Regions from separate parts of the Homo sapiens genome. Here region 2 is linked to region 1. A link means that fine-mapping ties the variant in region 1 to the expression of a gene that starts in the linked region. Tissue or cell type: whole blood. Region 1 holds a variant in brackets; the other region holds the start of a gene. All regions are shown on one strand. Distances are between the middles of the regions.

Evidence for each region. PIP is the estimated chance that this variant, and not a neighbour inherited with it, causes the effect.
Region 2: CAPZA1 starts here. The variant in region 1 is fine-mapped to the expression of CAPZA1 in whole blood (TOPMed, PIP above 0.99).

What each region holds. Positions count from the first base shown.
Region 1 is chr1:112,482,332-112,487,331 of GRCh38, forward strand. It overlaps a transcript of WNT2B not described here. Among named protein-coding and RNA genes, the nearest start is that of MIR4256, 23 kb to the left of the region's middle. The variant G/A (reference allele first, on the strand shown) is at 2,922.
Region 2 is chr1:112,617,461-112,622,460 of GRCh38, forward strand. It overlaps CAPZA1 (capping actin protein of muscle Z-line subunit alpha 1), which reads left to right and starts at 2,372. Exons shown (of 10, transcript NM_006135.3): 1 at 2,372-2,423. The coding sequence starts at 2,385. ST7L (suppression of tumorigenicity 7 like) reads right to left here and starts at 1,681. Exons shown (of 15, transcript NM_017744.5): 1 at 1,449-1,681. The coding sequence starts at 1,653. RefSeq lists enhancers at 1,645-1,744, 1,853-3,052, 2,205-2,654.

The DNA of each region.
Region 1 (5,000 bases):
AATAATCACATAAAAAAATTTTGAGACAGAGCCTTGCTCTGTCACCCAGGCTGCAGTGCAGTGATGTTATCATAGCTCACTGTAGTCTTAAACTTCTGGACTCAAGCAATCGTCCTGCCTCAGCCTACTGATAATCTGGGACTACAGGCACATGCCACCAGCCCCACTAATTTTATCTTTTTGTAAAGACAGGGTCTTGCTATGTTGCCCAGGCTAGTCTCAAACTCCTGGCCTCAAGCAATCCTCCTGCCTCAGCCTCCGAAAGCACTGGAATTACAGGCATGAGCCACCATGCCCAGCCCTAGTCACATTTCTAGACACAAACAGCAAAGTAGTCAGAAAGAAAATTAAGGAAACAATCCCATTCCCATTAGCAACAAAAAGAATAAAATATTGAGGAATAAACTTAGCCAAAAAGACTTGTACACTAAAATTATAAAACATTGAAGGAAATTAAATAACATTATAGATAAATGAAAAAGATATCGCATGTCCATAGATTGAAAAAATATTGGTAAAATGTTCATACTACCCAAAGTGATCTACAGATTTAACGCCATCCCTATCAAAATCCCAATGGTATTCTTTACAGAAATAGACAATAGAATCCTAAAATTCACATGGGATGACAAAAGACCTAGAATGTCCAAAGCAATCTTGAGCAAGAACAAAGCTGGATTAATCACACTTCCCAATTTTGAAATGTATTATAGCCAGATACAGGGTAGTCCCAGCTACCTGGGAGTGGAGTCTGAGGCAGGAGGATGCTTCAGCCTAGGAGTTTGAGGCTGCAGTGTGCTATGATTGCACCTGTGAATAGCCACTGCACTCTAGCCTGGGCAACATAGATACACACACACACACACACACACACACACACACACACACACATATACACACACACACACATTATAGTAATGAAAACAGTATGGTACTTGCATAAAAACAATATATAGAGCAAAGGGACAGAATAGAGCTCCCAGAAACAAATCCATGCATCTATAGTCAACTGATCTTCAACAAGGATGCCAATAACACACAATTGGAAAAGGATCATCTCCTTGATAGTGTTGGAAAAACTGGATATACAAATGCAGAAGGATGAAATTGGATCCATGTCTCACACTATATACAAAAATCAACTCAAAAAGGATTACAGATCTAAGCTTAAAAGCTAAAACCATAAAACTCCTAGAAGAAAACATAGGGGAACATTTTCTTGATATTGGCCTGGGAAATGATTTTTTTTTTGATGTGACACAAAAAGCACAAGCAACAGAAGCAAAAATAGACAAATGAGACTGCATCAAACTAAAAAGCTTCTGCACAGCAAAGGAAACAACAGAGAAAAAAGGCAGTCTAAGGAATGGGAGAAAATATTTTCAAACTATGTATCTGATAAGAGGTTAACATTTAAAATATATAAGGAACTCATACAACTGAATAACAAAAAAAAAAAAAGAAAGAGAGAATAAATTTAAAAAATAAATAAATAACCCTACTTTAAAATGAGCAAAGGACCTGAATAGACATTTCCCAAAAGAAGGCATACAGATGGCCAATAAGTATATGAAATCATCGGAGAAATGCAAATCAAATGAAATGTCACCTCACACCTGTTAGAATTAGTATTATCAAAAAGACAAAAGCCAGGTATGGTGGCTTGCGCTTATAATTTCAGCTATTCAGGAGACTGAGGTGGGAGGATCACTTGAGCCCTGGAGTTCAAGACGAACCTGAGCAACATAGTGAGACTTTGTCTCCAAAAATTATATATATATAATTTTATATAATAATTTTAACAATTTTATATAATAATTTATATAATAAATTATATATATCATTTTTATATATAATTTTGTCTCCAAAAATTTTATATATATATACACATATATATATACACATATATATACACATATATATACACATATATATATACACATATATATATATATATATACACACACATATATATAGAGAGAGAGAGAGAGAAGAGGGTCTCACTTGTCACCCAGGCTGGAGTTGGTGGTGCAGTCTCAGCTCACTGCAACCTCTACTTCCCAGGCTCAAATGATCCTCCTGCCTCAGCCTCCTGAGTGGCTAATTTTTTTTTTGTTTTTGTTTTTGTAGAGACAAGGTTTCACTACATTGCCTAGACTGGTCTCAAACTCCTGGACTCAAGTGATTCATCTACCTGGGCCTCCCAAAGTGCTGGGATTACAGGTGTGAGCCACTGTGCCTGGCCCCCAAAATTTTTTAAATTTAAATTTAAATTTTTTAAATCACCAAACTCCATGCCTGGCATGTGCCTGTAGTCCTAGCTACTCAGAAGGCTGAGGTGGGAGGATTGCTTGAGACCAGGAGTTCAGGCTGCAACTCCAGCCTGGGTGACAGAGCAAGACTCCCTCTTGAAAAAAAAAAAAAGGTTTATTTCTTTATATTAGCAATGGAAGTAGAAATTAATAAATAATACTATTTATAATAGCATCAAAAATACTAAATGTAAAGATATCTGACAGGAGATGTGCAAGACTTATACACAAAAACTACAAGTCATTGCTAAGACAAATTGAAGTTCTAAATAAATGGAGAGATATACTGTGTTTATAAATCAGAAGACAATATGGCTATGAATTCAGTGCTCTCCAAATAATTCATATATAGATTTAATGCAATCCCAGTGAAAATTCCAACAGGCTTTTTTGTAGAAATTGACAAGTTAACTCTAAAATTTGTATGGAAATGCAAAGGACCTAACATAACCAAAACAACTTTGAATAATAAAAACAAATTAGAAAATGTCACTATCTAACTTCAAAGCTTTTTATAAAGTTATAGTCGTCAGGCCTGGGGGCATGATGGCTCATGCCTGTAATCCCAGCACTTTGGGAGGCCAATGCTGGCAGATCACCTGAGGTCAG[G/A]AGTTTGAGACCAGCCTGCCCAACATGTCAAAACCCCGTGTCTACTAAAAATACAAAAATTAACCAGGCATGGTGACAGGTGCCTGTAATCCCAGGTACACAGGAGGCTGAGGCACGAGGATTGCTTGAACCCAGGAGGCAGAGGTTGCAGTGAGCCAAGATTGTGCCACTGCACTCCAGCCTGGGCGACAAAGTGAGACTCTGTCTCAAAAAAAAAAAAAAAAGGTTATGGTCATGAAGACTACGTTTTATTGGAATAGAAATAAAGAACTATATCACCATATCAATCAAACAGAATGAAGAGTCCAGAAACAGTCTCTCAAATATGTGCTTAGTTTATTTTTTGACAAAGGTGCAAATGCAATTCAATGGAGAAAGCGTAATCTTTTCAATAAATGGTACTGAAACAACTGGATATCTATATGCAAAAACTAAGCTTTGATCCATACATCACACCATATACAAAAATTAACTGAAGATATATTTTCGACCTAAATGTAAAACCTAAAAAAACTGTAAAACTTCTAGAAGAAAATGTAACAGAAAATCTTTGTAACCTTGGGTTAGGTAAAGATTTCTCTTAATATACCAAAAGCAGCCAGGCCCAGTGGCATGTGCCTCTAATCCCAGCTACTTTTTCTGAATTCATTGACATGATCATATGGGATTTTTTGACTTGTTAATATGGTGAAATACATTGATTGATTTTCAAATATTAAACCATTTATGCATTCCTTCCATAAACCCAATTGGTCATTTATGTATTATCTTTTTATATATTGTTGGGTTTGATTTGATAAAACACCAGCTACTGGAAGGCTGGGAGGATTGCTTGAGCCCAGGAGTTCAAGACCAGCCTGGGCAAGATAATGAGTTTTTAACACACACACACACACACACACACACCAGGCTGGGTGCTGTGGCTCATGCCTGTAATCCTAGCACTTTGGGAGGCCAAGGCAGGTGGATCCCTTGAGCTCAGCAGTTTGAGGCCAGCCTGGGCAACATAGCGAGACCCCATCTCTACAAAAAAATTTTTAATTAGTTGGGCATGGTGTTAAGTGCCTGTAGTCCCAGTTATTCAGGAGTCTGATGTGGGAGGTTGGCTTGAGCTTCAGAGGCAATGGTTGCAATGAGCCAAGGTCACACCACTGCACTCCATCCTGGGCAACAGAGCCAGACCCTGTCTCAAAAACAAAACAAAACAAAAGAACATACCAAAAGCACTACCCATAAAGAACCAATTGATAAATTGGACTTTATCAAAATTTAAAACTTCTGCTGTTCAAAAACATTATTAAAAGAATGAAAAGACAAGCCATTAACTAGGAGAATATACTTTCAAATCACACATTTAATAAAAGACTTATATCCAGAACATATGAAGAACTTTCTAAAGTTAATAAGAAAAAAAAAACCCAATAAAAATAGGGGAAATATTTTACTAGAAACTTCAAAAAAGACATACAGTAGGCAAATGAAAAGATCATTAGTCATTAGGGAAATGCAAATTAAAACCACAATGAGATAGCAATACATACCTACTAGAAAGCCTAAAATTAAAAGAACTTTTTATATTATGTGTTGACGAGAATGTAGAGCAACTAGAACTGCAAATGGGAGTATAAATGATACAACAACTTTGGAACATATTTCGATAGTTTCTTTAGAAAACATACATTAACCTGCCACATGATTCAGTTATCCCATGCCTAGGTATTTACTCAAAAGAAATGAGGGTATATTCTATGCAAAGGTTGTAAAATAATGTTCATAACAGTTTTACATGTCAAAGCCAAAAACTTGTAATTACCCAAATAGCCATCAACAAGTGAATAGATAAGTAAACTGTGATATATCCATACAATGGAATACTATTCAACAATAAAAAGAATGCAGCTACATGAATGAATCTCAATTATGCTAGTGAAAGAAGACATTTAAAATCAATACACACTATATGATTCTGTTTATTTAAAATTCTATAAATGCAAGATAAGATACAGTAAATAAAAGATTCGTGGTTGCCTGGGGATTGGGGGAGGGAGCAAAGAGAATAGAAATGTGATTACAAAGGTG
Region 2 (5,000 bases), 140 kb after region 1:
CAGAGTTTTGGGAGGCCAAGGCAGGAGGATCACTGGTAGCCAGAAGTTCAAGACCAGCCTGGGCAAATAAAATAGACCCAGTCTCTACGCAAAATTTAAAACTCAGCCAGTCGTGGTGGTGCACGCCTGCAGTCCCAGCTACTTGGGAGGCTGAGGCCAGAGGATCGCTTAAGCAGAAGAGTTCAAGGCTGCAGTGATCTTGCCACTACACTTCAGCCTGGGTGACAAAGGGAGACTCTGTCTGTCTTTCTCTCTCTCACACACACACACACACACACACACACACACACACACACGAAACGTAAAAAAGAAAAATCTATAGTAATCAACTATTCTCATCTAAATGTTGCATATGGTTAACGTAGAAAAATAAATGACAAGTCAATCAGTAACACTGTGCATAGAAACCACCGTTAAGCACTTCATTCACCTGTTACAGAGATGCCAAATTAGCTCTTCAGTTTAGCTTATTTTAGAGTGCTAGTTATATTTGAACTTGATACCTATCCTCCAAAAAAACCAAAATATTTCCGAACATTAACTCACAGTCTTTCATGTCATCTCTGAACAGGAAAGGGGACATTTGCTGCCTTTTGCTTCAGAAAAATCAACCACCATACTGAATCATGTAATGGAAATACTTATATCTTGTTCTGAGGTTGCTGCTCAGATCTTGAGTGAAATATAATCACATGGTAAGGGGACCTGGGCCCTAAACACTTCATCCTGTCTACAGCTAAAGAATAGTACAGTATATGAGAATCCATCAGGATCATCACTTCTTACATGTGTTCGTATTGTCAGCACAGAATACGTAGCAAGTGTTCTACAGACGTCGAAAGAACTAGCAAACCCACTGTTGTTTGTGGCGCTCTCACTTCCTGTACTATTTTATTACTCAAGATAAGCCTAAAAGAACAGACAAAACTATCACGAAAACGATTTCTTAACAGAACTATTTTAAAACAAGAGAATCCTCAATTAAAATCATGCCATTTTCTTTCTCTGAAATCTTTAAATTACAGATGTGCTCATCTTTGTTGCCTGGATATGAGTTCTTTCAGCTGGGCAGCGGGAGACTCAAAGTAGTGACTTTTAAGGGATCCTACCAGAGGTGGGGGAGCCAATATAAATTACGTATCCTAATCTGAGACACTCTTCTGTCCTAATACCTGAAGCTTATAGCTTGTCAGGTGGCTTTTCCATGGAAAAACGAGGACATAAGAGAGAGGGCGGACCTTAAGAGTTCTACGGAGGAGCCGGTAACGGCAGCAGGCTTGTCAATCAACTGCAAGGTTGCAGCCCAAAAGAAAAAGAACTCACTTGATCGCTCATCATCGACTCCTCAGAGGCCCTCTAGGACTACCGAGAATCTCTTGCCCTTTGGCTCTTGCCCCCGACATCTCTCCTGGCCCCCCGCCCTGCCCCAGGAGGTCTGGTCCTCTCACCCGCTGCCAAATTCTCACACAGCCTCAAAGGGATCCTCAGGGCGTAAAGCAGCCCCAGCCCCGCCACGAACCACAACGAGGCCCCAGTCCCCGCCAGCCCGGCCCGCAGTCGCTCCCTCCAGCCTAGCGTCGGGTTTAGGCCAGGGACAGATGCAGGAGACGCTCCAACAGCTGCGGCTTCACCCACGCCGCCACGGTCCGCCATCTTGCCGCTATCGCAGGCGCCAGGAGCTGGGAGGGGAGAAGGACAGGAAACCGGGAGTCGGGAATCCTGGGATAGTGGCGGACCTGAAGTTGGCCTCTGTGAAGGCTGAGTCCTGGGGAACCGGGACCGAGAAGATTTCGAAGGTGGAGGAGCGTGTCTCAAGATTGGGGCTACCTGTTCTTTCGTGGGGCAGGGAAGGGGCGGACAGCAGCGCCTATTCTGGAGGAACTGGACTGAGATGTGACCCCGAAGTGTTACCGCTTCCAAACGAAATGAGGGTCACCTTTCACACCGCCCCCCCCCCGGGGTTGGAAAAGCCACCGATCGTTCCAGCTGCCGAGCAGCTCTTAAAGCTTTGGATTCGGCTGTCGTGGAGATAACGGGCACCAGAAAAACTTGTAGGAGTAGCAACAGCTATTTGGTCGGATGGAGGCCAGAAGCCAAGAATAATCGAAACACGCTGCCAGCGCCCATTAGATGGATGGGAAATGAGTGTAACTCATTGGGAAAGATATTAGACTTCAAATCACCTAAGGCAAACCCTACTTCCTGGGGCGCGGGCGCGGGCGCTGGCGTTAGGAGACGTCACTCCCGCGCATAACTGACATGGGGCCCTCTTGGTCGGCGTTTCCGGGCGGGTCCTTCCGACGGCCGCCGCGGTGATTCCATCACTCGGCTTTCTTCCCGGCCTGCCTCGCGCCCGTAGCCGGGCTGGGCCAGAACAGCCCAAGATGGCCGACTTCGATGATCGTGTGTCGGATGAGGAGAAGGTAAGGGGTCCGCCTCTCTCTCTTACCTCCTCCCCCGACAGGGAACTGGGGCCCGGCCCGGCTGCGTTGGGAGCCTAGCAGTGTCCCCAGGAAAAAGAAGCTTCTTGGTCCATGCTGACATACGCTCTCCGCAGTCGGGACGCTTCCCTCTTAGGGGGCTTTCCTCTGCCTCACGGTGGCCCCAGTTCCTCGTTCCTCGACTCTCCTTTTCTCTCAGGCCTGAGGCACAGCCCAGGGGCCTCCCTGCAAGGGAACAGACGTTTCCTTTATTGGATCGTGACTGTGGACTTTTTTCTGTAATTTTGCGAGAGGGTGGTGGTTATGTTGCGACATATCAAAAAGCAGTTATTTTACCGCCTTTAGCAGTTGGGGCTCACCCCATCCCCCCATTTGTAGATATAATTGGGGTTAGTTTAGGGCGAGTCACTTCCTGGTCAGGATGGCCTCTTAACTTCCCTTTTGCTCCTCCTTCCTCAGGAAGTGATTTTGCTGTCACGACTCTTCGACAAGGAGAGGTCCCAAATGTTGTCCATCTCCCTACACATGCACTACTTTTCTCCTGTACTGTCGCCTGTCTGATTCGCTATAATAAATCTGTGAGCCTCAGGGCATTTGCTTCAGAATTTGAACACCAGTCTTTCCCTATAGACACATCCCTTTTAACGATAATTTTTGAAAATTTTGTTTCTTGTTAACAAATCTAGAATAGCTGATGGATTTTCTTAACCTCCAGAAAGGTTTTCTGTAACACATAATAAACCTTATGTTAACACGTTCAAGACTGAACAAAGCATCCTGCCTTCTTTGATGCTCCACTGTGGAGTCTTTGATCAGTTGAATTTGTCAGTGTGCATTTTGTATGCTCATTTCTTGAAAAGGGTCTTAAATACAAGAGCACATTCTAAGGTGGAATAACTTTTCTTCTGACAGTTGCACAGTTTCATAACAGTTTGTCAGGCTTTTCAGTAAGTACATGGTTTTAGGGCACGTAGAACTTAGAATGACCTCACAAGGCAACTTATTGGACAAGAATTATGACATTTGTCTCCCACTGTGGCTATTAGAAAATGTGTCCCCTTGAGTGCTCTGTAAATCTACCTGGGTGTTTTTTTCAATAAGAAGTTGGGATGGGAAGGGGACTGTTATGATCCATAAGTCCTCTGTACGGAATAACTTGATATATGTAGATATGGCATGCCATTTTGAAATGTTTAACAAGCCATTGACAACAGCGTTAGATTTTCTCTTATTTGGAAACTGATCTTCATACATGTTTAAGATTTAGGACAAAAACATTTATGTATAAGCCTATGCTGGAAATCGATCTATAATAAATTGTTCTAAGGCAAATAGTTACTATTCAAATAAAATTAAGCAAAAATCCTGTTACAATACAACTAAACAATTTTTTTTTTTTTTTGAGACGGAGTCTCGCTCGGCTCACTGCAACTTCCGCCTCCCTGGTTCAAATTATTCTCCTGCCTCAGCTTCCCGAGTAGCTGGGATTACAGGCACCCGCCACCAAGTCCAGCTAATTTTTGTATTTCTTGTAGAGAGTGGGTTTCGTCTTGTTGCCCAGGCCGGTCTCAAACTCTTGGGCTCAAACGATCCATCCGTCTTCGCCACTTAAAGTGCTGGGATTACAGGCGTAAGCCACCGCGGCCGGCCAAAATTTCACAAATAATTTAAATAATAAACTTTTAAGTTTATTGTGCCTACCTGATACACATTGACCAGTGTTGTTGGATTTTTGTCTTTGATACCAGGTTAGAATGCCTTTAATTAAACTTGGGAAAATATATATTTTAAAATGCCAATTAAGATGCCTTTAGATACTGGCAGTGTTTTAATTAATAACATTAATGTCTTGGGTTATGGTTTTTTTTTTTTTTTTTTGAGATGGAGTCTCGCTCTGTCACCCGGGGTGGTGTGCAGTGGTGCGATCTCCGCTCGCTGCAACCTCTGCCTCTCTGGTTCAAGCGATTCTCCTGCCTCAGCCTCTCGAGTAGCTAGGATTACAGGCGCCCGCCACCAAGCCTGGCTAATTTTTTGTATTTTTAGTAGAGACGGGGTTTCACTATGTTGGCCAGGCTGGTCTCGAACTCCTGACCTCATGATCTGCCCGCCTTGGCCTCCCAAAGTGCTGGGATTACAGGCGTGAGCCACCGAGCCCAGCCAGTATTGTTTTTTTTAATAGCAGATCTGTGACCAGTTTCCTCTTCTAGCATACTTTTTTTGTTGCCAAGTATATTTTAATATTGTTTTTTATCTTTGTTACATTTTCTAAAGGCAGTGAACCTTTAGAAAATTTGGTGATAATGGACTCTTAGTTTCCTTGTAAATATTTATGTAAAAGCTAGTAATATCATCTATTCTCATAACTGCTGAAGTTTTTTTAATCACTTTATAAAGAGGAAGTTGGGTTTTGTTACCTGAAATGGTCATGATGAGCTGTCTAAATAAAACAGGAAGTTGAAAGTGTAATAACTTTTAGAAATAAATCTTTTAGTTGTAGCTTTGAGTTCACAGTTTCTGAGAATGAACTTGAGCTCTTTAGTTACATGCTTAGCAAGACCA